Linked DNA regions of Homo sapiens: regions 1, 2 and 4 are each linked to region 3. Evidence: fine-mapped expression QTL. A gene starts in region 3. Each other region holds a variant in brackets. All regions are shown on one strand. Distances are from middle to middle. Region 1 has its middle 9.1 kb from the start of MIR4424. Region 2 has its middle 22 kb from the start of MIR4424. Region 3 holds the start of RALGPS2 (Ral GEF with PH domain and SH3 binding motif 2). Region 4 has its middle 12 kb from the start of MIR4424.

What was found. PIP is the estimated chance that this variant, and not a neighbour inherited with it, causes the effect. A credible set is the group of variants that fine-mapping cannot tell apart.
Region 1: its variant is the best candidate, but not a certain one, in a credible set for the expression of RALGPS2 in esophagus muscle (GTEx, PIP 0.59).
Region 2: its variant is the best candidate, but not a certain one, in a credible set for the expression of RALGPS2 in pancreas (GTEx, PIP 0.84).
Region 4: its variant is the best candidate, but not a certain one, in a credible set for the expression of RALGPS2 in fibroblasts (GTEx, PIP 0.83).

The regions. Positions count from the first base shown.
Region 1 is chr1:178,683,047-178,690,743 of GRCh38, forward strand. No RefSeq gene overlaps it. Among named protein-coding and RNA genes, the nearest start is that of MIR4424, 9.1 kb to the left of the region's middle. RefSeq lists an enhancer at 925-2,124. The variant A/G (reference allele first, on the strand shown) is at 4,271.
Region 2 is chr1:178,651,722-178,659,418 of GRCh38, forward strand. No RefSeq gene overlaps it. Among named protein-coding and RNA genes, the nearest start is that of MIR4424, 22 kb to the right of the region's middle. RefSeq lists an enhancer at 839-2,038. The variant A/G (reference allele first, on the strand shown) is at 5,484.
Region 3 is chr1:178,722,195-178,729,891 of GRCh38, forward strand. RALGPS2 (Ral GEF with PH domain and SH3 binding motif 2) reads left to right here and starts at 3,050. Exons shown (of 20, transcript NM_152663.5): 1 at 3,050-3,225. RALGPS2-AS1 (RALGPS2 antisense RNA 1) reads right to left here and starts at 4,090. Exons shown (of 1, transcript NR_187252.1): 1 at 815-4,090. RefSeq lists silencers at 2,824-2,978, 2,880-3,049, 3,310-3,429, 3,630-3,859 and an enhancer at 3,400-3,989.
Region 4 is chr1:178,661,629-178,669,325 of GRCh38, forward strand. No RefSeq gene overlaps it. Among named protein-coding and RNA genes, the nearest start is that of MIR4424, 12 kb to the right of the region's middle. RefSeq lists an enhancer at 2,742-2,951. The variant G/A (reference allele first, on the strand shown) is at 2,610.

The DNA.
Region 1 (7,697 bases), 39 kb before region 3:
TAGTTGTACTCTAGCTGTATCTGTATTCATATTTATCTTTTTCCACTTAGTTTTATATCCTAAGTATTTCCTCATGTCATCACATTCCATTTCCTATTTTAATGGAAAAAGCTAACTGTATAAATGAGGGTCATACTAGAGATAGCAGTAATATACATTGGCTGAAGGTCATAAACACCTATCATTTAAGCGTTTCATTATGAACTTTCCTAAAAATCATATTTAATCTAACCTTCGTGCTTTTATCCAAAAGCTCATCCCTACTCCTGTTCACCTACCCATATTTGTATTACTTGGGATTCTCAGATTCAACCTAATCACTTAAGTTTTTGTTTTTTAGGGAGGTTATTTATGATAAGACACAAGATTCACTCACAGATTTGAAGCTGAACAGTTAAGCCTTGAAAAAGTCCTCTGGCCCTTGGCCATTGGGGCTTGCTTACCATCCCCTGCCTTTGAATTTCTGCCTGTTGGCATCATCCTCTCAGACCAGCTTTGAAGACATAGCTGCCTTGGGCACACATCCTTGCAGCTCTCTGACTAGAGAAAAAAGGAATATCTTTCTTCCGCTTGAGTCTGAAAATGAGTGGTAAAAAGACACTGAATGACCTGGGCGGGACTTTGTGCCTATCTAGAGACCAGTCAATGTGCCCAGAAGAAAGAAGAACACTGATTAACTCAACTTGAGCATGTGCCATACCTCTGAAGTACTTCATGATTAGTAGCCCCCACATGGTTTTAAGGAGCATTTGCCAGAAAAAAAAAAATGCCTGTTCTGTACAGACAAAAGGTTGAATGCCCCTCTATAGGCCACCGCACCTGGCCTCAGGTGCTTTTTGAGTGGACTGAACTTCACGATCATTACCTCACATCCTCACATCACAGGTCAAATCCTGTCTCCTTTCTTGATGACTTCATTCATTATGAGAAAAGGTTCATGGAGCGCCTACCATGTGGTAGGCATTGCTAGGTTCTGGAGACATCCATTTACTCATTCAGTCAGTCAGCAATTTTTATTCAGAGCTTTCTGTGCCAAGTACTATGCTAAGTTGCTGGGGGACACAGCAGTGAGGAAGACAGATGAGATCTCTGCCCTCTCAGAACTTGTGTCATGTCGGCCAGGCGTGATGGCTCATGCCTGTAATCCCAACACTTTGGGAGGCTGAGGAGAGTAGATCACCTGAGGCTGGGAGCTTGAAACTAGCCTGGCCAACATGGCGAAACCCTATCTCTACTAAAAATACAAAAAATTAGCTGAATGTGGTTGCACATGCCTGTAATTCCAGCTACTCAGGAGGCCGAGGCTGGAGAACTGCTTGAACCTGGGAGACAGAGGTTGCAGGAAGCCAAGATCACACCACTGCACACCAGCCTGGGCAACAGAGCGAGACTCTGCATCAAAAAAAAAAAAAAAAAAAAAAAAAAAGCAAAATTTATGTGGGGACAACAGTTAATAAACAAGTAGATAAATGAAACAATTACAGATTGTGAGAAGAAATGAAGAGATGAAAAGCGTACCTTATTCAGAGAATGATGAGGGTGGGCATGGGGGAGGGTGTCTGCTTGGGTGGTGAAGGCCAGGCTCTCTGAAGAGCTGATACTGGAAAACTTAACCAACCCATGTGTCCTCCTTTTGAAGCCCTCACAGGCCTTGGCATAGAGGCTGAGCACATGAAGATCTGCTAAAGTGAATGGGAAACTAGGGAAATGAAAATAAATATCTAGCTTAGTGTAAAAGTAAGGAAATATTTTTTGAAAATTGAAACCTGTTGGGTAAAGGTCATGCTCTCTTAGAGCTTTTGAAAAAAAACACATCATTTAACAGTCATTAAGAAAAAATGTGTGACCACAGGAACTGCAGAGTTCATAGGTTTCAATACATATTTCAAAACAAGCCTCAGAAATAACAATCCAATGTGTCATTGCTATACAACTCCTTGAAAAATAAATCCACAACAAAAGGAAAAAAATAAGACTATTTTGCAGTCCAGATATCTAAGTATTAAAGAACTTATAGGAGCCTCTGAAAATCCAGTAGGCATGTTTATGTCTTTATGATGATCTTCTCCCCTGGATAAATTTGTTTTTAGAAAGAACTAAAAACTTCTATTTTGAGATTGCTCTGTACACATGCATGATATTTGACCATGTAGAGTCATGAACATGCTCTGTCTATACATTCACATACATAAAGACAGGGGGATGTGGAAAGGATATGGATTTAGTCAGATAGAATTGGGTCCCAATTCTGGTTCCAGTACTTTTTTTTTTTTTTGAAACGCAGCTTCACTCTGTCATCCAGGCTGTATTGCAATGGTGTGATCTCAGCTCACTGCAACACCCGCCTCCCAGGTTCAAGCGATTCTCCTGCCTCAGCCTCCTGAGTAGCTGGAATTGCAGGCACCCACTGCCACACCTGGCTAATTTTTGTATTTTTAGCAGAGACGGGGTTCACCATGTTGGCCAGGCTGGTCTTGAACTCCTGACCTCAGGTGATCCACCAGCCCCAGCCTCCCAAACTGCTGGGATTACAGGCATGAGCCACCGCGCCCGGCCTGGTTCCACCACTTATTAGCTGTGTGATTTTGAACAAGTTATTTGACTTTTCCAGGCCTCATTTCTCATCTGTGAAATAGAGGTAATAATAACTTCACAGGGTTTTCTGAAGTTTTCATTAAATCAGATGTGTTGAATGCTAGGTAGATGTATTGAATGTGAAACAGAGGCAAACCCTAATGAATGGTATTTATTCATTTATTTAAGATTTACTTATTTACTAGGCCTGGACAAGACATAATCTCATTTCTATTACTCTTACAGTCTATGAAAGAGAAAATTCAGAATATTTCGTTTGCTTCTGATTCTGATCACACTAGAAACATTAAATGACAACCACTACTATTTCATTAACATATCAGGAGTCAATTGGAACAAGTTCAGCTGTGAAATAATTTTGAAAAGGTTAAGTGTTTTTCTGTTCTTTCTGCTTTAGCTCAGAACATACATGGGATACATTTAATTATTCATGTGTAAAGGAAAGATCCCAAATAACATTCAGTCAAACCAGTATTTTCACAGGCCAGAGGGGCCTTGGCCATCTGTGTGAGTGTTGTTGCCTCTCCTAAGTTTTCTGCTCATTCCTGCATCTGTGATCTGGTTCAAGGTGCTTTTTTCTTTTTAATTTTTCACTTTTTATTTTTTTATTTGAGATAGGGTTTCACTCCTGTCACCCAGGCTGGAGTGCAGTGGCACGATCTTGGCTCACTGCAGCCTCCGTCTCCCACACTTAAGCGATTCTCCTGTCTCAACCTCCTGAGTAGCTGGGACTACAGGCACATGCCACTACATCTGGCTAATTTTTTTTTTTTTTTTTTTTTTTTTTTAGTAGAGACAGGGTTTTGGCATGTTGCCTAGGCTAGTCTCAAACTCCTGAGCTCAAGTGATCTGCCCACCTTAGCCTCCCAAAGTGCTGGGATTACAGGTATGAGACACCACACCTGGCCTCAAGTGCTTTTTGACAGGACTGAACTTCACATCTACTCATCTCAATTTCATTCATCCTCCTACCTAGTTATTCATCCTCCTTACCTAGTTACTCATTCCATCTGCCATCATAGCTTTGGTTTTAGGGAAAGGGGATTTCACAGTTCTTTTGTTCCATCAACAAACAATATTTACTCTTGAATGTCTCAAATTTTTCTCACCTTTTTATAAGCAGGAATTCCCCCTTAAATTGTCTCAGCCCGTCTTTAAGTCATGCTGCCTCAAAAATGGAGTACTGGTATCTTATAGTTACTTATAGTGACTTGGTCCATATTCCACCTAAAGTAGAAATCTTTAAAATATCCTACTTGAGATGATGGGGCAATCAATACTTGAAGACATAGCCAAGTCCTTATGGGTAGCTCTAATCTTAAGAAAGGTTTTCTTTTCGTTAAACAGTTCACACAGGCTATCTCTGGAGAGTAGAGATGGAGGAAGGTGAGAGGCAGGAAAGGAAAGGGAAAGGAGGAGAAAGATTTTCAAGTTTCATAATATACCCTTTTGTTATGAATGTATTTTTTCCCTTGTGGGTGAATTACTTAAATTTAATCAAAATCTGCATCCCCTTAACCATCAGTACTAGAATTACACACAGTAAATCTGACGCTTCCTCCAAATAACACTTTCAAATCTTAAACTACCTTGTCCTTTTCATGTCTATTCATCTTTAAGCTAAGGACACTATTCCTTCAAATGTTCCTCGTATGATCAAGCACATACCTTTATT[A/G]GTTACCTCTTGCAGCATTTATTTTTTTCTTCCCTTGACCCAATAGCCCCTGATTTCTGAGCGGGGCTCCATCTGGTTCTGGAGAAGCTGACTCTGCCCCTGCTCCAAGGGTGGAGTATATGACCTAGGCTATCGTTCCTTTTTCCTGGCCACAGAGATGGGTTCAAGGGGTGGACACTTGATCAACGCTAGTCCAATCAGAACAAATCTCAGGGGTGAACTAGAAATGATAGTTTTAAAGTGTGGGGTGAAGATGAGGATGCATGGAACCTTGGGAATTGTTGACGTTTATCTTGGACCATGAAGGGAAGAGCCTACTGAAAAATGCACCAATATTCAAAAAGCAGGTGGAGAGATGGAGAGAAAAATCTGAGTACTTCTTGTATGAGAAGAAAGGCCTTGTTTGAAGGCAATTCTACTTTAGAATTATGTGATTTCAACTACAAGTCAACATACTATTTTGCTTAGCCCAGTTTGAGTCTAGTGCTTTGTTACTTGCAACTGAAAATATCCTGACTGATATGTGTGAGATGGTTCTTCCCTAGAGTTGCCTGCCTTTGGACAGACTTCAGTTTGTCAGTGACCTGCTTACCAGGTTCCCAGAACACAACCTACTATTGTAGATGAGATTGACCATGGCAGGCCACAGAGGCTTTCTAATGAGCCTGGATCCCAATGTATTGCTATTATGTCTGAACTTGAAACTGTACTGGAATTTTGATCACCCCAATTCCAACAACTATCACCAGAAAACTACCTATTTTACGAATCATTTGGGAACACAAACCCTAAACACCCAGGAGCTTGCAGGAGAAAATAGAAAGGATATTTCAGAATATACTTTTGATATTTCAGAATATCCTTTTCTATAAAAAGTTCAAAGTCCCTTCTGTTTCTGCTTTAGCTTTCAGAAACAGAATTACCAACTCCTTGCTTAGTTTAATTTTGACATGTGTATTTAACAAATTGCAGGTTTTCAAAATAATTACTATACACAAGTACTGTTTAAAAAAAAAATTTTTTTTCTGAGCAAAGTAACCACCATGTTTTGCAACCATGTTGAGTGGTTGCCATCAACGATGAAGTAAGAGCACCGGAGGTCTTTCCTGGGGAAGAACACAGCTCATGCACCCCCAAGAGGCCTCTGGGTTGACATTTCCTTGGTGACTTTACCAAGATCCAGATTCTGGACCTCAGTTTGGGCAGGTCCATAAACTAGACTTTATAAGTGTATTCCCAGAGGTGCAGACTCAGTGGAACACTCACATGAGATGGACATGTAAATCAGAATGCCAATGCTTTCATTTTTCAATGGAGATGACCTTTTGCAGGAGATAGATGACCTGCATTTCATTCAGAACACCACACTTCCCTTTCCTAGGGGTAGAAAATTGGAAAGCTGGATTAGTAATAAAGACAACTGCTGGGTGAGCATGGAATTAAGAGAAAGGGAGTGGATTGTCTTGAGGACTATTTCACCCAGGTCATGATGAGACTCTGATAAAATACATCCTCACACATGGGTGATAATATTTATCTAGGGGGCTGGGCACGGTGGCCCATGCCTGTAATCCCAGCACTTTGGGAGGCCGAGGTAGATGGATCACCTGAGGTCGGGAGTTCGAGACCAGCCTGACCAAGATGGTGAAACCCTGTCTCTACTAAAAATACAAAAATTAGCTGGACATGATGGCGGGTGCCTGTAATCCTAGCTACTTGGGAGGCTGAGGCAGGAGAATTTCTCGAACCCAGGAGGTGGAGGTTGCAGTGAGCCCAAACGGCGCCACTGTACTCCAGCCTGGGTGACAGAGCAAGACTCTGTCTCAAAAAAAAAAAAAAAAATCTATCTGGGGGCCAAAGGGAATGTGGCATGGTCCACATTATCAAAGTTCTCTTTGTAGAATGACAATAGCTAATACTTATTTATGGTAGTTCTTACCATGTGACCAATCACTATTCCAGACATCTATTAACTAACTTAATCTTTGTAATAAGACTTTGAGACTTATGCTATCATTAGCCCCATTTTACAGATGCTAACACTGAGTCACAAAAGGGGAAAATGACTTGCTAAAAGTTGCATTGCTAATCAAGTGGTAAAGCTGGGATTCATATGTAGCCTGACTCCAGAGTCCATGCCTTAAATTGCTATGCTATACTGCTTCTTGAATGCTGTGTTTTTCTGTGCTACACACTCATCTCTGCTGCTACATCCTACATAACACATTAACTACTTTATATGCTATTTGACACCACCTCTATAGTTAGTTCTGAGTCCTGATAATGCTATGTCTCTGAAATATTTTCATCTGTATATATACACATACATGCATAAAATGTATGTATATATATAATTTCTCAAGAAGATATATACGTGTGTGTGTGTGTGTGTGTGTGTGTGTATAAAATCCTTTACTGTTGCCTCTATACATACCAAAAAATATAAACAAAACCATGCTAGTATGGGCTGTTGGCTAGGAAAAGAACTTTGTTATATTGAACTGGACAGTGTGGTGATAGTTGTTAAAATAGGATTCTGCCTATATTTAATCCTTCTCCAAAAAAGGAAATATTTAGTTTCAGAGAGGTATTACAGCAAGAAACATTAGAGAAGAATGAGGAACGTGCATTGGCCTTCAATCAGAATGTAATGCTCCAGTCGAAGCCAGCTGTTCCTGCATCAGGCCTAAGGCAGCACACCCTTGGCCATGCTGTCTCTGAATCTCTGCAAAAGAGCCAGGTTAAGTCTGGATTTTATTGAACTGATCCTATCCTTCCTTCACAAGGATTGTTTTAAAACCACTATAATCTTAAGAAATATTCCCTTGTTATTTTCTTTTTTAAAGTTACATTTTAAAAAAAAGATTAAAAATGTATGATTCAAAAGCCTAAATGTATGAAAGGTAATTCAGTGAAGTCTTTTCCATGCCCAAACTCCTAACACTTGGTTTCCCTCCTGGGAGGCAATTATCAGTTCCTTCCTTACTTATCCTTCCAGAGATATTCCATTATCATTTCCTTTTATTGTCACTTTTTTCCCCCAGGAGATATGTAGTTGGGCCTTTTTAGCTTATTTTGCCATACTTTCTTTTTCTTCTTCTCCTATCCCTTCTTTCAAAAGACAAGGTTAAGCTCTCCTGCAGACTTTTCTTCTAAATGCCAATCTGCCCTTGGTTGATATTGGTTTTATCATCTTCCAAATCCAGTTTCTGTTCTAGCTAGGATTAAGCTTGTATGCGACAGCTAGTGGTCCCAGTCACCTTCCAATGAATGATGGATGGGACCAGGAGGAGCAACGGTTCCCTAATACCATTAATTACAAGATTTTCATAAGCTCAAAATTCTAGAACTGACAGTTGCTTCCAACTGTTACCAGCTGTTAATTTGGCAGAGGTGTTGGGGATCTGAGTGCCGTTCTGCAAACAAT
Region 2 (7,697 bases), 70 kb before region 3:
ATGAAGCCCACAGATTTTCACTCCAGAACTGACTTTGCTGCAGAGGAGTGAGGAGAGCTGCCTGGCAACGCAACGCATCGCTGTGCATAAACTTTGTTTACAGCCAAGGCTGGAGTAAAGGAACAGATGGCAAGAAAATCGGATTTAAAGAAAGGAAGGATGTGCTTGCATCTGGGAGCTCGGTAAATCTCTTGGCTTCTGGTGTGCGTACAAGGGTGACGTCTAGCTACCCCAGCAGTCGCGTCCCAGTTTGCTGTTGATTTTTGCCTGTTTGGATCTGTCTCTGAGGATGGTTAATACATCTTATTACAAGCATTTATCTCATCCCTCCCACAGGAAATGTGTTTTCCCAGGGATTTGTATGTTCCCTAACCTTTTATGGAAAGCAGTTTCTTGATCATCCATGTGATTGTGTATCTAAAATTTCAAGAATATTTAAGCTGTTAATCCTGCTTGTCTGTAGAAGATGGGTTTATATTTCTATGATCTTGGAAATATTTACAATGAGCATGTATAACAAGGAGAAATAAGCATAAACATTTATGCCTGCCACATTCGTAAGCATGCTTGCACACACACACCCGCTTTGTGCTTTATTGTCTCTCTTTGGTGCTTTTCTCTGAAGGCAAAACAATTTTAAGCAGCTGACCCTCACAATATATGAAATAGCTATTATCAAGGCTCACAGTAAAGCTGCCCAAGGCTTGCTTACCCCTCCCTCCTAAAGGAAAGTACAAGTTACTATTCAGGTAAGATTTACATCTGCTCCCTTGGGAAGGTAAAGGGAGAGAACATATACATTTTATCCCAGTGATGTAAACTTGCACTTAACCACCCCAGTTGTTCAATGCAGACAAGTTATAAGCATTTTTATTTCAAAATAACCCCATATACATTTATAGCAATTCTAGGACCTTCACAGCTACCCATAATCAATCCCCTACAGAAACATGCACCCTGCCAAGAAACTCCACCCCACTCCTACATGTTAGCAACCTGTCACTCCTCAGCAACATCCAGTTCTGTTGAAAGACACTTCTTCAAATTCATCGTGAGCTGAAGATGAAATTACTTAAGCAAAAATACCATATATTATAAAAATAGTTCTTTACAAAATAGTCACCAGTTAAAAAAATCAAAGCATCTTATAGGATTGACTGCCAAGCACCACTGGAGGCAAGCGCTATTAGAACTGGTTTGACCCGACTCATTGCCTCCTGGTCTATGCCAGGCCAGTTGCAGCTGTTAGGCATAAGAGTGATTCTTTCTGGTGGCACACAGCTTGCCCTCTTCAAATAAACCCTCTGGGCATACCTCCCCAGCCCCCTGGAGTGCTTCTGGGGCCACATTCTGGAACTTCCAGGCAGCCCCAATGGCCAATGGTCAGTGCAATCCCCTTCACCAACCTCCAGAAAGGTAACTTTGGGTTCAGAAGTCTATGGCCTGCTGGTGCTCCCAAATCTCTCATAGTGCTTGCGTTCTGGCCTGTATGATTATGGCTTCCTCACCCTACTGGCAGAGGGCACAGAGGAGGCCTTGGTACAAAGGCCAAGCTGGGCACAGGGCACTTAGTGACTATGTATCACTCATTGTTGAGTCATGTTCTTTCACTTTACATAGCCTCTGAGTTGGCCACCACCTCGGATCCTCTACCTTCAACCCACTGCTGTGACTCAGTCAAGGAAAAAGCCCTACCAAGGAATCCCCGGAAGAATCCACTATGGCAATTCACAAATGCTCCTCGTATACCCTAAGTGGTTCACGGTAGGGCAATGGAAGCATGCAGTGCAGGGACAAGGAACCAAGGCTGTGACCAATCCCATTTAAGTATCGTATCTTTAACTAATTTCTGATGTTTGGAGGTCCCACTGGCCTCAAGAATGTTGCAGTTCTTGAGTCCTGTGTGCCAGGAACCACTGATAGATGTGCAGTTGTAGCTTTAACCAACAGCAGCCACCATCCAGGAGCCACCATCCAGGATGTTTCTTTTTTTGACTGAGGCAAATAAAGCCTTGGCTCTGTGGGGTTGCATAAGGATCACCTAGGATGCTTTTTCAAAATGCAGACTCCTGGGAGTCACCCTTGCCTCAATCTTCTAGGTTCAATAGGTCCAGGGTAGGACCTGAGAACAACAGGTTCCACAAGTGAATCTGATGATGGTGGATTTGGGGAAAAAGCCCTAGATAGTAACCTTTGTCTTCTTGTCTTTTCACTGTACACAATCCCCCTTCCAACTTGTTTTAATTACCTGGAGCTTTAATTATCACCTATATGCCAATGACTTCCAAGTCTCTATACCTATAGTCCTAACCTCTCTCTTGAATGCTAGGTTTAAATTTCCATCAGCCAGCAGATAAATCTCCCTTAATATACCATGGATAATTTCAAAAACACTTTCAAAACATAATTGTGAGAACTTATTTCCTCCTAAGACACTTGAAATTAATTGCCCCTCTTTGAGGTCTACGTAGGTAGTAAAAGGCCAGGGTTGACCAAAACGTGAAATCCACTCAGGGTAAAGAAAGTTTTATTTAAATTTCTTGTAAAGTTAAAAAAAAAAGAAAAGAAAAAGCAATGTTGCTAATGGCTGAATAACCCATAATACTCAGACCAGAAAGCAGTTTGTTCCACAGTCTGTAGGTTTTAAACTAGTGTCAGCTCTTTGCTGCAGATGTGAAGAGAAATGCAAACATTTCACCCACTTAATGATTTTTTTGCCTTGTTTCCCTAAGACAACTAATAGCTCTGTAAAGGCAGTATTTGATAACTGCGAGTACATATTGTCTGGTGATTTGATTCTTTATTGCTTCTCAAATCAGGATGGTAAAGATTCCAACTTGAGAATCTGAGTTATTTTATTTACCTGAAGATGCAGATCTGTAGTAATCAGGCTCCTTTTGTTGCAGGGAGCAGAAGCCCACTCAGTTTATCTCAAGTGTTGGATCACCTGAGGTCAGGAGTTCAAGACCAGCCTGGCCGACATGGTGAAACCCCGTCTCTACTAAAAATACAAAAATTAGCCAGGTGTGGTGATGGCACCTGTAATCCCAGCTACTCGGAGGCTGAGGCAGGAGAATCTCATGAGTCTGGGAGGTGGAGGTTGCAGTGAGCTGAGATCGTGCCACTGCACCCCAGCCTGGGAGACAGAGCAAAACTCTGTCTCAAAAAAAAAAAAAAAAAAGATAAATAAAATGGATGGGTTTTCAAATCAAAGTAAGTTTCAGTCACTATTATTGCTAGTTTATTTATATTTAATAAATATGTAATCCCATGACACTGTGCAACATAATTAGCAAGTATTTATGCTGTTGAATCCATGACCCAGTTTCCTGAAGACATCTGTTTTCTAAAAGGATTTTTTTCAAACTTAGATTAAAAAGGCACTACTTAAGCAGGGTTGCCAGAGAGAATACAGGACACTCACTTAAATTTGAATTTCAGATAAATAGTAAATAATTTTTCACCATAAGTATATCTCAGACATGCAAGGGACATACTTAACTAAGAAATTATTTGTTGTTTATCTGAAATTCAAACTTAATTGGGCATCTTGTATTTTTCTTTCTTTCTTTTTTCTAAACCTGATAACCCATCCTCCACCCCATTTATTTATCTTTCTTTCTTTTCATAAAAAAGACTAAGATTTTAGTTCTCCCTGGTGTAATGGCCTCACTTCTCTTCCAAATTGTTTTTAGATATTTTTTCTCCTTTGACAATATATAACAGGCGTGTCACCTTTGTTGATTTCTAATGTGTAATTTTTAAATGTGCATAAGGACTGGGTGCAGTGGCTCATGCCTGTTATCCCAGCACTTTTGGAGGCTGAGGCGGGAGGATCACCTGAGGTCAGGAGCTCAAGACCAGACTAGCCAATGTGGTGAAACCCCATCTCTACTAAAAAAGTACAAAAAAAAATTAGCCAGGCATGGTGGCACACACCTATAATCCCAGCTACTTGGGAGGCTGAGGCAGGAGAATTGCTTGAACCTGGGAGCTGGAGGTTACAGTGACCCAAGATGGTGCCACAGCACTCCAGCCTGGGCGACAGAGTGAGACTCTGTCTCAAAAATATATAAATAAATAAAAGGTGTATAAGATAAACTGCAGGCGAAATAAGCTTAAGCAACCTCTGAACTGATGACTAATAGTTAAAACAATTGCAAACAGGTGAAACCAGTCTCATTGTGTGAATAATGCAAATTCAAGGGGCAATCTGGGTGGAGATCTGTGACAGTAAAGCACAATTTCTTGTTAACAGAAAGGAGTTTGCTTAATGTTATCTCTTGTGATCTAAAGGCCTTGGATATTCAACATGTGTCTATTTTTCAACTGAACTGGACTTATTTATTTTCTTTCTTTCTTTCTTTTTAAATACTCCTATGACTTCATTTCTTTCACCCCATAAGCTCTTGAGACCATCCACAAAGGTCAGCAGAGAGTAATGTCTGAGCTCTCTGGGATATCCCATACATCAAAAGGCCATATCTTTACTCGGCTAAGGAGTGCAGAGCTGAGACGTGTCAGAGTACCACCTCCTCTCAGCCAGCAAGGCAAACTGCCACCATGGAGTCATGCATACTACTGCATTCGCCATAGGATTGATTTATTTCATTATTGTTTATGGATCTCTGTAGGCAAATGTATCCAATCATGAACACAGGGAAAAAAAGACACATTATTCCTTTTGACAGTAGGATGCAACAATGTCAATAATTGTTAGGTAATTATTGTCAACATATTAGACAATGCCAGCCGGTTTAATGTGCAATCATATGCTTTACCTCTTGAAATGACAACTGTGCAGTAAGTTGTTACCTGTGTTTAACAAAATACTACCAAGAATAATCTGAAACTAATACATTTACTTAAACATGGATACTTAGAGATGTTAAAAAAAATAGTAGAGCAAGTAAGGTTTTCCTGAGCTTCAAAGAACAAACTTGAGATCCAGTGAAACATCAGTTCTCAAGATTTCATATACAGTACACAAAAATGCCCCCAGAAATTTTTCTAAATACAGACTACTCCAGTGTCCCATTTCCAGAGATTCTGTTTCAGCAAGCTGTATGGCATTGTGGTTGGGAGCATGGAACTAGACTAATCTGCCCCTTTGCTACCTGTGGAACTCTCTCATGTCTATTTCCTCCTCTGTAAATTGGTGATGATAAGCCTCTTGCATGGAGTTGTTCTGAGGATTAAGAGTTGCCATTTGTAAAGCACTTAATAGATAACCCATATATGTTAGCATTTTTTTTTTTTTTTTTTGAGACGGAGTCTCGCTCTGTTGCCCAGCCTGGAGTGCAGTGGCACGATCTCGGCTCACTGCAACCTCTGCCTCCTGGGTTCACGCCATTCTCCTGCCTCAGCCTCCCAAGTAGCTGGGACTACAGGCGTCCACCACCATGCCCGGCTAATTTTTTTGTATTTTTAGTAGAGACGGGGTTTCACCATTTTAGCCAGGATGGTCTGGATCTCCTGACCTC[A/G]TGATCCGCCCGCCTTGGCCTCCCAAAGTGCTGGGATTATAGGCATGAGCCACTGCGCCCGGCCTATTTTTTTTTTTTTTTTTTCTTAAGCAACACTCCAGGTGGCTGAGATGCTGGCAATCCTCAGTCCATAATTTAATAAACACTGCAGTGTGGCCTCGGGCTGGCTGTTGACTCAGTTTGGGCTGGGCATAAATCAGTTAATCTCTCTGTGCATCAGTTCACTGCCAGTAAAGTAAGTCTGAGAATTCTTAACTAACTCAAAGATATAGTCCTTGAGAAAGGAAGAAGCCACACTTCCCTCAATAGCCTGGCAGTGTACACTCCTTGCTCTAAGAAATACATGGTAAACAGGGACTGTGCCAAGACTACACACCAATAAAACATTTTGGACCTTTAGCCCTGCTCTCATGGAGAAATATGAGTGGTCTCAGGAAGTTTGCAGCCTTGGTTTTCATGGTAAGTCCGGCGCACGTGAAACTATTGGCATGCCACACAACACCATGGATGTGTCCAAATATGTGGGACACCTCAAAGGCCACATGTTTGGAGTTTCCTTCTATCTCCTCCTTCCTAACCTCTAAATGCCTGTGGGCTCCGGGGTTCTGGCCTCTTCTCAATTTACATTCTCATCCCTAAGCTTAAGTGAATTCCCAGGTTGTATCTCTAGCCTGATGGCTCCTTGAGCTTCAAACTCTTACATATCCCACTGTCTACTCAACAGCTACACTTGGATGTCTCAAAGGTTCTCAAACTTCACATGTCCAAAAAGAAATTCTTGTTTCCAGATTCAATAACCCCATACAAATCTGCATTCACTTCCTTCCCCAAGCTTTCCCTATGAGGACGTGGTAACATCATCTATCCAGGCACTTAGACTTAACATTAAGAAGTTGCTCTTTGTTTTGTTTTTGAGACAGTGTCTCACTCTGTTGCCCAGGCTGGAGTGTAGTGGCACAATCTCGGCTCACTGCAACCTCTGCCTCCTGGGTTCAAGCAATTCTCCTGCCTCAGCCTCCCAAGTAGCTGGATTACTGTCATGTGCCACTTTGCCCGGCTAATTTTTGTATTTTTAGTAGAGATGGGGTTTTGCCATGATGGCCAGGCTGGTCTCAAATTCCTGGCCTCAAGTGATCCACCTGCCTTGGCCTCCCAAAGTTCTGGGATTACAGGCATGAGCCACCGCACCCAGCCTAAGGAGTTGCACTTGATTCTTCTCTCCCTCAAAGCCCTGCAGGTTCTCACCTCTGCCTCCCATCCATCTTCATCTCCTACTACACTCTGCCCATGTTAGCCTTCTTATTGGTCTCCTAGAGCACCCCTCATCTTTCTAGAACATTCCTGCCTCAGGGACTTCACTTCCTGTTCCCTTTCCCTTTCTTCTCTTGGGTTAGCTTATGGTTGATTTCTTTTCTTTTCGTTCTTTTTCTTTTCTTTTCTTTTCTTTTCTTTCTTTCTTTCTTTTTTTTTTTTTTTTTTTTTTTTTTTTGAGACAGATTCTCACTCAGCCACCCAGGCTGGAGTGCAAGGGCACGATCTCAGCTCACTGCAACCTCCGCCTCCCTGGTTCAAGCCATTCTCCTGCCTCAGACTCCCGAGTAGCTGGGATTACAGGTGCCTGCCACCATGCCCAGTTAATTTTTGTATTTTTAGGAGAGATGGGGTTTCACCATGTCGGCCAGGCTGGTCTCGAACTCCTGACTTCACGTTATCCGCCTGCCTTGGCCTCCCAAAGTGTGGGGATTACAGGTGTGAGCCGCCGCGCTCGGCCAGCTTATGGTTGATTTCTTGTCATAATTTAAGTCTCTCCTCAAATACAAGTGTCTCCTCCTCAAAGAGGCCTTTCCCTATCACCATATGGAAAAAGCTCTTATTCCTATGGTCACGCACTAGCCCTTACCCTGCCTTTTAATTTTTTCTCACAACATTTGTCTCAGTCCGTTATACTACTTATTTACTTACTACCTGATTATCTGTCTGCCATACTAGAATAAAATCACCAAGAGGGCAAAGACTGTCTTACTTACCATGGCATCCTGAGTTCCAGAATGGTCACTAGCTGTATTAGGCTGTTTTTGTGTTGCTATAAAGAAATACATGAGGCTAGGTAATTTAGAAAAAAAGAGGTTTAATTGGCTTCTGGTTCTGCAGCCTTTACAGGAAGTATGGTTCTGGCATCGGCTTGGCTTCCAGGGAGCCCTCAGGAAGCTCACA
Region 3 (7,697 bases):
TTTGGTATCTGAAGACTTGTGACATATCTCTGTCGATTGGGAATTACGGCAGGCTCTCCTTGTACCATAGTGTCAGTTTTCTGGAGAATGTCTGTCTAGCCCTTGGAAGTTCCCTTATGCGTCCTTTCCCTCAAGGTGAATTTTGGGAATGCTAACTTTGCCTTTATTTTAAATTGTGACATCGTAAACACAACCAACAAATTTCTTCAAAATGTCCAGCCACTATATACATTTGAAAAAAGAGATGAAAGGTTAGAGAAATAACAAAGGTATATGTTATTACTGAAATTCTTTTGGTTGTAATAGAATTAAGTATTACTGAAAAAATAAGCTTTCTTACCATGCCAGTTTGATTTTGTTTTGACAGCTGTAATGAATTGTGTTGCTTGTTGATTGGTTTACTGCAGTGGTGGTCTCTTTGAACTGTTTGTTCTATATCTAAATTAGTTCCTTGGCTTGCCCCTTGGAAATAATTTGGATGGATAGTAATAAAACTATTACATAATGGTGATTCCTCTGAAATGACTTTTAAGCATATTGAATTCTTATCGATTTCTATTTCATATAATGGCATTTCTATTTTATACATTAGTACTTTTTGTTATACTAAGACTTTGCATATTTCTTGTATTTTGGCAAAAGCAATTGGAATCCATAAAGCAACATACAGAATTTAATTGTGATAAAAGTGCTCTGGTAAAGAAAATTTGGTATAAAAAGCCACTGCTTTCATTTATCAAGGAATGGGAAGGGACACTTATTTTATAAAAGATATTGAGGACAAACTTTTTTCTCTATTTTTATATACAAATTCTTTTTTTCTTTTGAGATAGTATCTCCCTCTGTCGCCCAGGCTGGAGTGCAGTGGTGCGATCTTGGCTCACTGCAACCACTGCCTCCTGGGTTCAAGTGATTCCCCAGCCTCAGCCTCCTGAGTAGCTGGAATTACAGGTGCCCACAACCACGCCCGGCTAATTTTTTTGTATTTTTAGTAGCGACCAGCTTCACCATGTTGGTCAGGCTGGTCTTGCACTCCTGACCTCAGGTGATCTGCCTGCCTCAGCCTCCCAAAGTGTTGGGATTACAAGTGTGAGCCACCACGCCCGGCCTATATACAAATTCTTAATCTTACCAAGTTCACAAATTTGAACTTAACACAACTCTTAAGGTTAATAAAAGTATTGTTTTATAAGTTATCAATGTGAGAAACAGATTTGGGGTAATTATTCAAACTCAAATTCAGTAGGCATAAGAATTTAGTGTATCCATGGCCTTGCTCATGAGTCATATGTTTTTTTCTTTTCAAAGTCCAAGTGAAAACTTCACTGCTTTTACAATAAGCTGTGAAAATTATTGGCAGATGTAGGGACCCTGCCTCATTTATATCTATGAAACCCTAATTCAAGTTTCAAGTAATTGTATGACATTTAACAACATAAGAGTTCCGTTCCTCAGTTTTCATATTTCTTAAGAGCAGTTAATTATGTGTGATAATGGTATGTATGTTGCATGTATTATTGTTGGCATATAGCCAACGACATTTTCCTTAATCTCTTAGTAACACTTTAAGAAGACTAAACATTTACCCAACTCAATAACTGGAAGGGGTTTTTCCTCCAAGTGCTAATTCATTTAGTTGTTGTTTATTTGGGACTTGAAGCAACTAACATCTATGCGAAAACTTTCTGTATACATAATGCACTTCCCTCCTTTTTACCAATCATCTTCCTTTTTCTTTTCTTTTTTGGACTCTTGTCATTTGAAATATTGGGTGGGGGGGAACGCTTTTTTTCTTCTTTTGATTGCTCTACTTCTTCTAGTGATTTCGTCATGATTCAAGACTTTCTTTGAAAGTAAAATGGAATAAAAATGAAACACTACGAACTTTGTTGCCTATCCTCGCTGTTTTTCTTTTTGACTTAACTTTGCGTTGGGGTGCTTTAAAGTAACCCTATTTGAGAGAAGGAGGTTGAAGGGCATTCTAGCGTCCCCAACTAGAGTAAAAGGGCTATGACAGAAGGCAATCAAAGGAGGAAATAATTAGCAATCTTCAACGTTCAAGATTAATCAGTTCTGTTTAGCGGTTATTAAAGGGAAGAAAGAAACCAAATGGGAATAGTGAATTATTGGTCCTTTCATGTTTTACACTTAATGCTGGTACATAGTATTCTTTCCACATTCTACTGCACATTGCCTAGAGAAAGAACTGCAGATCATCAAATAATTATCCATTTCCAAATGGTCTAATGACAGCAGATACAAAGGCGGCTCACTTAAAACCTTCCGTTAACAGTCACACTGCATCAAATGGTGCTAGCTTTAAGTAGGCCACCCATTTAGTAGACTCTGAAACAACACCTTTCCGCCCAATTTCTGTCATTTGCTCCTTAAGTCAAGGGTAGTACCCTGCGTAACATCTTACAAAGGCCTACTTCTAACACTTCCCGAATCTTAATGTGTGAGGATGTTGATCACCATAATTTATGACCTTATCTAAGACAGTGGGGTGACTCTCCACATTGGGAGCCCCCTCATTTGTCCTCAGTGACTTCTAAAAACACCGCTGGCGTGGGCTGGATATTTGATCTTGGGGCCAAGTGCTTCCAGACTTTGTTCTCTGGCCTTAAAGGTGAAGAGCCCGGCGCTGAAGGCCACAGACATCACGGCGGATTTCACAGAGGGCCGCGTTCCGGGAGCGGGTGGCCAGGCGGTGGCGGACGCCCCACCTGTCCATCCTCCTACCCCTTCCCCCCCCCGTTGTTTGGCCGGTGGGAGCCCCTCCTTTCAGCAGGCGCCGGGCGGTGGGGTTGCGGATGGCTGCGCGCGCTGCGGGCACCGATCACCGGCGGCAGTTGGGCTCCGCGGGGCCGAAAAGCTGCGGGCGGGAAGCGCGAGGTTAAGACCCTGACGGCTGCAGCTCTCAGAGCCCCCGCGAGCGCGCTCCGTTGGTGCGCGCGCGCGCGCGGCTCCGCCCCGCCCGCTTGGCGCGCGCCCCCGCCAGGTCCGCTCTCGTCCCCCACCCCTGGCGCGGACGGGGTGGTTCCAGCTCACTCTCCTCCCCCGAGCGGCAGCGGCGGCGGCGGCGGCGGCTGCTGCGGGCGCTGAATGAGAGACGGTGACTGTTCGGGTCGACGAGTGCTACTCTAGGCGGCGGCGGCCGTGGCGGTGAAGCGTGAGGCCGGCATCGTCTTTCCGTCCTCTGAGGCGACGGCCGCGGCTGCACAGGTCGGTGGGCTCAGGCCGCGGGGCGGTGCGGGGGAGGGAGGGAGGGAGGGTGGGTACGCGGCGCCCCCCGGGCGGCGCGGGGAATGGCGGCGGCGGCGCTGCGGAGTGTGGCTCTCCCGGCCGCGGGCCCCGGGGCTGCTCGCCCTGCGCGCAGGGAGGGGGCTGCGGAGCTGGGGCTGAGGCTGAGGGAGAAGGGCGCTGGGCGGCGCGCCTCCCTCGGCCGCGGGTTCTCAGAGTCGGAGCGGCCGTGGGGTCCCCGCTCGGGGGCGCCGTCCTGAAGCCGGGGGCGCTGCGACCCCTTGAACCCGCCTCGCTCTCCCTCTTGGGTGGCGGAAGCCCCCAGCCTCCGCCCGCTCTGTTCTGGCGCCCAGCGGCGCCTCAGTCTTCCTTCAGGTGAGCCCGATCCCGGACCTCGGAGCCAGGACCAGCAGAAGCCGGGCCACACCCCCTCCCCTGGCCCTGGCGGCTGCGCCCAGAAGCCTGGCCGCAGAGTTGGCCGCCCGCGAACCCGCGGAGTCGCGGTCAGGGTGACCTGTTGCAGAGCGGCCCGCAGCCCGAGCGGCCCCCGCCAGCCCCGGCCCCGGAGGGGCTGCGTCCTGTGCTGGCCTCGGGCCGGGCGCGCGGGCCGGGTGTGGGGCAGGGGCCGCAGCCCCAGGTCGGCTTGCTCTACGGCCTGGAACCGGGCTCTAGAAAAAAAAGGAGATTCCGAACGTATCTCATCAAACACTTGCAAAGCCGGGAGATCTGTCTGCAAATATCCGGAATTCCATTGCAGTATCGGATTAGGTAGGCTCATAAACACCGTGCTTTTGAGGTGATTTGGAAGAAACGCGAGCCACGAGCGAGGAACTAGTTTCTGGAAAATAGCCGTAAACCTGTGCGGAGCGAATTATTAACCCCCCGCCCCAGCTCCCCCCTCGAAGCTCTTTTCCTGTAGCTGTGTGTTGTGTAGACGCAAGCCAGTTTCAGTGTACGTGGGCGTGTTTGGGAAGAAGCTGCGAGCTGATAGGAGGTACCTAGTACAAATGTTAATTTGTTTGAGTTGGGAGGGGTAAGGGAGGAGGAAGAAAGGGCACTGATGTTAGCTGTGGAGGAGGGGCAATTGAAATACTAAATTTCTGTTAAAAAAAAAAAACCCCAAAAGAAATATCTAATGCCTACTGTGTATTTAAGACCATAAAGTGGAATCACACAAGCAGCAGTTAATTGAGCTTTATCGTTTATGCTCCCTGGATTTTTTTTCCCCAACACTTTAGTTGCTATAGAGAGCCTTTTCTTACCAGTGTTCATGAGTTGACTTGGGTATTTTTCTGTGTCCACCATTAGATCGATTCCTGTTCAAGTTTCTTTGAAGATGACCATCAGAATTTTAGGAAACTTTTCAGCCCGTGTTTGCAGAGTATCGCTGTTAGACAGATCATAGCTTGCTCATTATAAAGCCTGTTCCACTCAAGATCATTATGCTTGTACAAGTGCTATAGAACAAGTGCTATAGAATCATACACATAAGTGTATTACTCTTACGGCTAAATATCTTAATTTAGAATTATGAGGAAACTTCCAAAACTGAGCATCCAAACAGTATTATTTTAACAAAGATAACCTCTAACTCAAGCTTTGTAGGCATGAAGTTTATCATGTAGCTTCAAAGGTCTTTTGAGGCAGATCTAAATATCAAAATGTAAGGGCATTAATGCCATTTGGGATAAACAATTTCAGTGTATTTATTTTAAGCGTAGTTCATTTTTTCTTTTTAAAATTCAGCATAATTTTTGAACGGTAAGATGTGCGTTTTTCCCATTATATTCCACTTTTTTTTTTTTCCTTTTAAGATAGGTTCTCCTTATTTGGCTCAGGCTGGTCTCAGACTCCTGAGCTCAAGCGATCCTCCCGTGTCAGGCTCCCAAGAAGCTGGGACTACAGGCATGCGCCACTGTGCGTTATTTCACTTTTCATTGAATTAAGGAATTTGACTTTTAGTAATACTTTGGGGCAGGACTCTGGAAATACTGTTTAGTTTGCCTAAATTTTTTCAGATTGCAACGTAAGTTTGAAGATAATGCTTGCATTGGCAGAACACAACGTGCTTTTCTAATATTTATTAGTAATACTAGAAAGAATACAACAAATTTTCCTGAGAGAAAACATAACTGAAAAACTGGCTTTGTGAGTCAGATACATATGTGAGTAATATATTTTTGTGTGTGTTTTTAAATACCTGGTACGAGTCTTTTTATTACGTCATTAGAGTTCAGTGTAGTGAATGATGGATATATAGGTGAAATTGTCCTGTTGCAACTTAAAACACTTAAGCTTTTTCCAGAGACTCAGTTCATTCTGCACATGTGTATTGGGTACCTACTTGGTGCCAGTTAGTTCCCTAGAGGTTGGGGACACAACAGGGGAGACACAACAGGGCTTATCATTTAAGCCCTGATGGGGCTTAAATGATAAGTGGGCAAATATGTTTGTTTAAAAGTTTAAGAAGTAGAAACTCCTCTGATAACTTTTTGGTTAAGGATATTGTTTTTTTCTTTCTGAGAATTGTGGGAATTATTGCCTAGCGAACAAAAACATTAAGACAATTGTTTTTAGAATATGCCTATGTTTATATACTTTGGGTTTCTGGTTACCAAGTATACCAAAGATAAACATTCTACCTGAAGTCAGATGATGCGTAGTTTACATGTGGTTAGACAGCCTTATTCTTTTGGTTTATGTAGTTAAATGAATGTTTGCTGAAAATATTCTCTCGGCATTTATTTATAAGGGAATCTAAATTTCTTTTTTGGTCTAAAATTTTAAAATATCACCTTTTTATTTCTGGCTGACTGTGAGTGAACCAATTCCTTGATAATCTGCTTTTTCAGAAATTTTTAAATAACTTTTAAACCATAAACCAAACTATTAATTGAAATTTATTGAATCAAATTTGTTTTCTTTTGTGAGTTAAACTTTAAACCCATTTTCTCCGAAAGTATGCTTTTTTTTTTTTTTTTGCTATGTAAAATAGGCACATAGTTTGGGTTTACTTTTAATTTTAATGATACACAGTTTGAGAATAAGATATTGAAGTGTATCCATTTTTTGAATATGAGATATTTATTGTGTAACGACTGTATTTGGAATAAAATTGTCACTTTAATATGAATACTTTTTTTTAAGTTAATTTTCAATGAAAGATAATTCAAATAGCTTGAAACTACCCCAGCCTGAGTGAAGTTCCTTGGAGAGGAAAATGAATGTATTGCATTACCCTGTAAATTGTTTCTTTAAATGTGTCTTAAATTTCCTATTGAATCCTTTTTAGTGAGAGAATAAAGATTGTGATAAATTTTAGTAACGTGGAATTAATCTGGAATCTTTTTTGGTTTAATGTCTTGAGCTTTTGATTTAGGAAAACTTTTAACTACATAATAGAAATAAAACACTGGAATTTAAAATGTGTTACATTTACCTATTCTATGGAAAGAAAAAAGTTTGAATATAAATTTACATAGTCACTTTACTAAGTAGCTAGTTAGGGATATGGGAAGGATCTATATATACATACAGTTATATGGATATAGCAGTGTTCATATGACTTAGCTTGAGGAAGCTTGGCCGTTTATTTCATTACAGAGAAACTTTTGGTACTGGCTTTTGAATAATACATTGCTTTGGAGTGTGAAAGACTTGAATCTCTCATCTTGAATTTAATTGATAGTTTTCTGTTATTTCACTTACATGACCTTTTTTTTCAGAACAGATTTTCTTTAGTTTGATTTCCTTTTGTTGTTCTTGCAGAAGTGTTTTCTGAAAACCTTATTAAATAGCATCCCCCATCATACTCTGTGCCTTTGCCTTGCTTTATTTATTTATTTTTACATCATTGGTTTATCTGACATTAAAACGTACATTAGTTTATTATCTGCCTCCCTCTCTGATTGTAAGCTTCATGAGGACAAGGGCTTATTTTGTACACTGTTCTCTTCCTAGCACCTAGAAAAGTATCTGACACGTAGTGATGCTCAGATATTTGTGGGGTATTGTTATTAAGTGATCAAAGGACCCCTGGTTTTGTTCCTTTTTTAAAAAAAGATTAATATTTGATTTATACAGCTGTGCAGTTAAAAAGAAAATTGTACTACAAGGGTTATACAGGTTGAGCATCCCAAATCTGAAAATCTGAAATCCAAAATGCTCCAAAATATTAAACTTTTTGAGTGCCAGCATGACTCTCAAAGAAAATGTTCATTGGAGCAGTTTGAGTTTTAAATATTTGGATTTGGGATGCCCAACTGGCAATGCAAGTCTTCCAAAATCTGACAAAATCTGAAATTCAACAAAATTTGAAATCTGAATTTTTCTGGCCCCAAGCCAGGTACTCAGATAACCTGTAATTAAAACTCCGGTCCTCTGCCTCATGTCTTTATGACTTTCCCTCCTGTGTCCTGCTTTCAGAGCAACCATAGGTGTTTCTTCTATTTATT
Region 4 (7,697 bases), 61 kb before region 3:
CACACACACACACACACACACAGAGAATAGCTCTGCCTGGTCACATAGAGGTGGAACCCTTTGTAAAAAAAAAAAAAATGCTGTATTACTTAGAAATATCTAACTCTCACTTGTTTCAAGAAAAAAACACTGAGAAAACAAAAGTCCAGGACAACAAAAGAATATACAGAGGAAAAAAACAAATGATCCCTTTCTCCTCTGGACAGGGGCCACATTTCCTTTGTCACTATATCCCCAGTGCCTAGAGTGAAGAGGAAATTGAGATAGTTCTGTGGGGGCAAATGAATTCATATGGTGACTTTGGGACCCTGCATTATGGGGTCTGGACTGAAAGATTCCTTCAAAGTCACTCTGGACCAGGCCCACTGCTTCCAGGCACGTTTACATCCAAAGTAAGCAACAAAAGGATCTGACCTCTCTCCCTAAGGCCTAGAACACAATACAGATAACAATAAGAACAACAAAGTGGGTTTAAGATAAAATAAACACAATACACATTGCATTCTTGTCTTCTTTTCTTGTCTTTTCTGGCTGTGTGTATGTTTTTTTAACAGGAATCTGTTGGTGGGAGAATTCCTGGATGTTTCCTACAAGCAGATGGCAATGTTCTCTTAGTCTCATCGGAACCAGACAGAGAAGGGGACGGTGGAAAAAGGACTGATAGAGACAAAGCACATCTAGCCAACCAGTCACCCTCTACTTCTAAAGACTTTTGAAAACAAGAGTATTGTCAAGAATTATTTAACATTATTATGATACTATCATTATAATCAAGGAGTGGGCTGTTGAGAGATTTCATCTTCATTCATTTTTTCAACAAATGTTTGGTCAGTGCCTAGGATGTCAAGTACTGGGCTAGTTGCTTATTTTATAAAGATGAACAAAACAGAGTCCTTGCTAGCAGCTAGGTCATAATGAAGACAACCCAAACAACAATGACCGCGCTGTTAGCTAGGACAGCAGCGTGCCTAGGATGCAAGGAGAACCTTGGAGGGCAGTCAGAAAGGGTCCCAAGACCAGGTGACATTAGAGCTGTGCTGGGAAAGAGGGGTAAGATTTAGACGCAGGCGAAGAAACGAAGCAAGCACATTCAAGGTGGGAGTCAAAGTCACTGAAATATGAGAGCACCTGAGCTAGTTGGTACCACTAGAATCAGGGGTAAGGCTAAGAGAGGATGAGGAACTGAGGCTGATGAAGGTAGCAAAAGTAGACCAAGCAAGATGTTGGCTCTCATGATTAGACATTTTTTCTCAAAGCAGTGGGGAACCATCAAAGGTTTTTCACCAGAAAAAAATGTCATGTTAACATTTTTTTTAAAAATTGAGACAGAGTCTTACTCTGTTGCCTAGGCTAGAGTGCTGTGCCACAATCACAGCCCTCCTGGGCTTAGGCGATCCTCTTGCCTTAGCCTTACACATAGCTGGGACCACAGGCACATACCACCACCATGCCTGGGTAATTTTTTAAAAAAATATTATTTGTAGAGACAGGGTCTCACTATGTTGCCCAGGCTGACCTCAAACTCCTGGGCTCAAGTGATCCTCCTGCCTCAACCTCCCAAAGTGCTGGGATTGTAGGTGTAAGCCATTGCACCTGACTCATTTTAGCATTTTTAAAAGATTACTTGGGAATAAATGTAGGACACAGACTTGTTGGGCAGGAGTTAGGAAACAAGACTGAAGAAAAGGAGACCAGTTAAGAAGGTATGGCAAGAAACTAGGAGAGAAATTATACAGGTCCTAAACCAAAGAGTGCTAATAAGGATGGAGGGGAGGAGGCAGATTGGCTAACTGAATGTGAAGAATGAGTGGAGAAGGCACAGAAGAAGACACTTTAGGTACCTCTCAGTCTTCTGTCCTGAATGACCAGATAGATGTGCATGTCGTTAACCAACATTCAATGTCTGGAACAGAAACATTTTAGGGAGGAAGATGATATGGGCAATATGGGATATGTTTAGTTTGAGATGTCCAGCTGGGAGTTGAAAAGCCGTGTGTGGAGCAGGAAGAAGTTCTAGGCTGGAGATAGACATCAGCACTGGGATGATCACTGAAGCTATAGGCTTAAGTTCTACTAGATCAATGGCTTTGAGACTATTTTTTCTATAACCCACAGCAGAAATACATTTTATGTCACAATCCTGTGTACACATACACACACCTATAAAAATGTTCATTCAACAGTATTTACCATGACCAAGTGTGACGGACTCTAAGAGCTTTCTATTGAATTTCAGTTTTTTTAAATGCTGGTCAGATGCACCGATTTGATTTCACAATCTACTAATCACTAATGGGTTGCAGCCTGTAGTTTAAAATGCACTACCCTAGATTATAAGCTTCTTGTAGCAGGGACCACATCTTATACAGTTTAGATTCCCCGTGGCAACTATTATAATGCCTTGCACATAATGAATTTTTGTGGAAGGAAATCAGGGGAAAAAGGAAGGAATGAAGTGAGGGAGGGAGAGAGAGACGAATTTTTCCAGTACTCAACCTTAAAATGTTCTCCAAAACTACAATGAAATCTTGTCTCCTCCAATTCTACTGAACTTTCATATACACAGTTTCTATTTTTTTCCTCATATTTCCAAGGTAAATCAAACATGG[G/A]TCACAATGCCTCAGGGGAGATTTGGTGTTTTGCTTTTTCTCACCACCAACTCCCTACACCACATCTAGGGCTCCAACCATAGTCTTTTAGTTGGACTAGACTGGCCAAGCAAGACACTTATGTTACATGGCTGCAGCCCTCCTATGCAAAGGTTGTCACGCTGTGTACCACATGACCCCACAACAGCTGCCTGGACCGGAGGAAGATGGCAGCAGCAGCCAACACACACACAGAGAAGAGGAAGTAGAAGCCCTAAGAAAATAGAAGCTATGAGCAAGCTGAAGATGAGGAAGAGAGGACAGGATGGAGAAATTAGTTGGTAGCGGCAGAAGCAAAGAGTAGTTTGGAAACTGAAAGAGCGAGCACTAGAAATAGGTATAGTTGCCAACTTCTGTTCATAGGGACAAGATACCCAAGTAAGCTGTGATGAATCCTGCGTTATCTTCCATTACCCTGATGACATTGCAAGCTCTGTGAGGACCAGCTTTTCATAGATTCTTCTTTCTCCACAAGGACCGCATATCATACATCAAATTTCTCCCTTGCTTCCTTTCTCTTGTACTCAAAAAAATTAACTTACAGAAAAGTTGCAAGAATATTGCAAAGAACTCATACCCTTTACCCAGATTCAGCAATTTTTAACATTTTGCCACATTTCTTTCTCTCTCTTTCTCATTTTTGTCTGAAGCATTTGAGACTAGGATGCATATATCACTTTTTTTCTTAATATTTCAGTATGTATTTCCTTAGATATTTTCTTACACAGTCGTGGTACACAGCTCCAATTCAGGCAATTTTACATTGATATAATAGTTCAATGTTAAACCCCACATTTCTACACCATTGTTCATAGCAGCACTATTCACAACAGCGAAAAGGTAGAAACAACCCAAATGTTCATCAACAGATGACTGAATAAACAAAATGTGGCCAGGCGCAGTGGTTCACGCCTGTAATCCCAGCACTTTGGGAGGCCGAGGCAGGCAGATCACCTGAGGTCAGGAGTTCAAAACCAGCCTGGCCAACATGGTGAAACCCCATCTCTACTAAAAATACAAAAATTAGCCGGGTGTGATGGCGAGCACCTGTAATCCTAGCTGATTGAGAGGCTGAGGCAGGAGAATCACTTGAACCTGGGAGGTGGAGTTTGCAGTGAGCCATGATCGTGCCACTGCACTCCAGCCTGGATGACAGAGTGAGATTTTGTCTCAAAACAAAACAAAACAAAAACAAAAACAAAAACAAATGTGGTACATACATACAATGGAAAATGATTCAGCCTTAAAAAGGAATGAAATTCTGGCACAAGCTATAACATAAATAGACCTTGAAAACATTACGCTAAGTGAAATAAACTGGATACAAAAGGACAAATACTGTATGATTTCACCTACATGAGATACCTAGAATAGGCAAAGTCCTAGAGACAGAAAGTAGAATGGTGGTGACCAGGAGCTAGGAGTAGGAGGAAATGGGGAGTTATTATTTGACAGGTATAGAGTTTAGGTATGGAAAGATAAAAACATTCTGGAGATGGATAGTGATGATGGTTGCACAATAGTGTGAATGGACTTAATGCTACTGAGCTGTACATCTACAAATAGTTAAAATGGTAAGTTTTATGTTTTGTGTACTTTACTGTACTTTTTTTAAGTTGATGTTCTAATTCTGTGAATTATCCCAATAATGTACTTGTAGCATGTTTTTTTTTTCACTCCATTCCACGATCCAGTCCAGGATCACATGTTTTACATATTGCATTTAATGATTATGTCTCCTCAGCAGGGTGATCAAGTCATCAATTCAGAATAACCCTGTTTTCCCAGACCTTCTCCATTTTAGCACTGAAAGTCCTGCATCCTGGGAAACTACTCAGTCCTAGGTGAATGGGTGAAGAGTTGGTTATGCTACTCTTCAGTCTCCTTTAATCTGGAACCGTTGGCTCAGCCTTTCAATGTTATGTCTTTTATAACATTGCCATTTTTAAAGAAATCAAGTCAGATACTTTATTGAACATCCCTCAACTTGATATTACCTGATATTCTCCCAGGTTATGCATTTCTGGTTGGAATACTACATTAGTGATTTTGTGTCCTTTTTGAAGTATCACAGCTGGAGGCACAGATGTCCATCTGTCCTGCATTGGTAACGTTAATTTTGATCATGATCAAGGTGTGGTCTAGTTTCATAATCATGTGCTTACTATTTCCTTCCACATATATGCTTATAATAAACTTCTGTTAACAGTGTTCCTTGCTACCTGAAACAGCCTAAGCAGAAGCTCAAAATATATTATAGGAAACATCTGATAGCATCCTTGCACTTGACAAAAGAAAGCATTTCAAAATTCGTTTTCCATTGTCATTGCAGAGTACCATAAATCACTGCATTCCTCATCTCTTCTGTCCTTGGCCACTTTAGGTTTTGAGGTGACAGAATTTTCAAAATGTATATATTTCTATATAATTCTTTCTTTTATTTAAAAAATCACATTATTGGTGAAAAAAAGCATGGCTTTCTGTTTAAATTACCTGTCTTGACACTTATTCTCAAAGTGAAGACTATTGTCTGGGGAAAACACACTATGTGTAGCAAGAACCTTTACACTTTTTAACTGACAGCCCCAACTGCCATCAGCATTTGTTGTATATTTAGTTGTCGTATAGATCAGTTCAAAGGAACACATTTTCTTTGTTAATTACTCAGTCAGGTAACCAGTTGATATGGCTTGGCTGTGTCCCCATTCAAATCTCAACTCGATTGTATCTCCCAGAATCCCCACGTGTTGTGGGAGGGACCCAGGGGGAGGTAATTGAATCATGGGGGCTGGTCTTTCCCGTGCTATTCTCTTGATAGTGAATAAGTCTCACGAGATCTGATGGGTTTATCAGGGGCTTCCGCTTTTGCATCTTGCTCATTTCTCTCTTGCTGCCGCGATGGAAGAAGTGCCTTTCACCTTCCACTGCGATTCTGAGGCCTCCCCAGCCATGTGGAACTGTAAGTCCAATTAAACCTCTTTTTGTTCCCAGTTTTTGGGTATGTCTTTACCAGCAGCGTGAAAACGAACTACTAATACACCAGTGAACTCTCCAAGTTCACTAATAGTCTTTGAAGGTGGGACTTTGGAGGTAGGAGATAAGCAAGGGTCTCTGGACTATTTGAAAGATGCAGAAGCCGTCAGACACTGGGCACGCTGTGCCCCAGGACCTAACCATAGCCTTTGGCACCTACTAACATGCCACCTAATCTATTTATTTATTATGTTTGCTATTAGTTTTCTGCCTCTCTCTGCTAGAATGAAGAAAGCTCCATGAAACTAGGGATCTTTGTTTTTAAGATCAGACAGTATGCATGCCCTATAGCATACACTCAACTAAGATATGTTGAATGAATGAATAAATGAACTTGTTATGAATGTAATTAATGCCACTGACTTGTATGCTTAAAAATTATTAAGATAGGAAATGCTATGATATGTGTATTTTACCACACACAAAATAAGTTTATAAAAGCAACAGTTATCTAACGTGGGCTAGTCCTGGATTGTTGCTGTATTTGAAATAACCTCAGTAGATCTACTCTACCAAGGAATTGGCCCAGACCAATTTCTCATCCAAAGAACTGATGGAGGATCAGACAATTTCAAAGCCCCTTGATTCAAGTGTTGTTGAAGTTTTTAGTTTCTGGTGGGGAGATGAAGGGAAGTAGCCCCTTTGGTTTTAACCTTTCCTGCCATGAGTTTCCCCATAGGTACTCTTACTCTTACTTCCACAGAGATTTAAAAAGTGGAGTTCATGCAGTTGAGCTCAATTTTTTTTTTCTTTTAAAAAGGAGATTTAAAAAGTGGAGTCCTCAGTCAGGTGCAGTGGCTCATGCCTGTAATCCCAGGAATCCCAGCACTTCGGGAGGCCAAGGTGGCAGATAACTTAAAGTCAGAAGTTCAAGACCAGCCTGGCCAAAATGGCAAAACCCCATCTCTACTAAAAACAGAAAAATTAGCCGGGCATGGTGGTGCAGGCCTGTAATTCCAGCTACTCAGAAGGCTGATGTGAGAGAAGTGCTTGAACCCAGGAGGCGCAGGAGTGCAGTGCCACTGCACTCCAGCCTGGGCAACAGAGTGAGACTCCATCTCAAAAATAAAAAAAAATAAAAAAATAAAAGAAGAAGAAAGAAAGAGAGAACGAGAAAGGAGAAGGGAGGGAGGCAGGAAGGAAGGAAGGAAGGAGAGAGAGAGAGAGAAACTGCCCTTTGGGTAGCATGGCATATGCCGCTTCTCCTGTTCGCAGTCAGATCTTCCTCCCTTTATGTAAAGAGTCTATTCTTACCACTGCTGACATCTAAAGAGCACAGAAGCAAGAATTACAGCTTAGAGAAGTTCTGCAAGATAGAAGTAACAAGGGAAGACAGAAGATTGTCTACTCTGGGGAGTTTTCTGCTTTAGTGTTCACAAAACATTTCATAATCTGCAGATAAATGTGCAGGCTCTGCAAAATAGAACATGCAAATAGTTCTTGGTAAAATCTATGGATCAAAGCTATTTCTCTTTGCCCTTCAAATGATCTAGTTTGCTTTTTAAATATTTGAACATTTTCCTACAAGTTGTGACAATGACACAAGTTTAAACACACCATGCCTTTTATAAATAGATCCTAACCTGAAAAAGCTTCCACCCTGACTGACTCTTGTCTGAGGTTTGAGAGGAAAAGAGAGATTTAAAGGGAAGCTAATTAATACAAATCTTCTAAAACATACATGAGGCTAGGAATATATTAAGTGCTTAATTAAAAAACAATGTAATCCCAGCACTTTGGGAGGCCGAGGCGGGCGGATCACGAGGTCAGGAGATCGAGACCATCCTGGCGAACACGGTGAAACCCCGTCTCTACTAAAAATACAAAAAAAATTTAGCCGGGCGTGGTGGCAGGCGCCTGTAGTCCCAGCTACTCGGGAGGCTGAGGCAGGAGAATGGTGTGAACCCGGGGGGCGGAGCTTGCGGTGAGCCGTGACCGCGCCACTGCACTCCTGCCTGGGAGACAGCGAGACTCCATCTCAAAAAAAAAAAAAAAAAAAATGTTCTATTGGGTTTA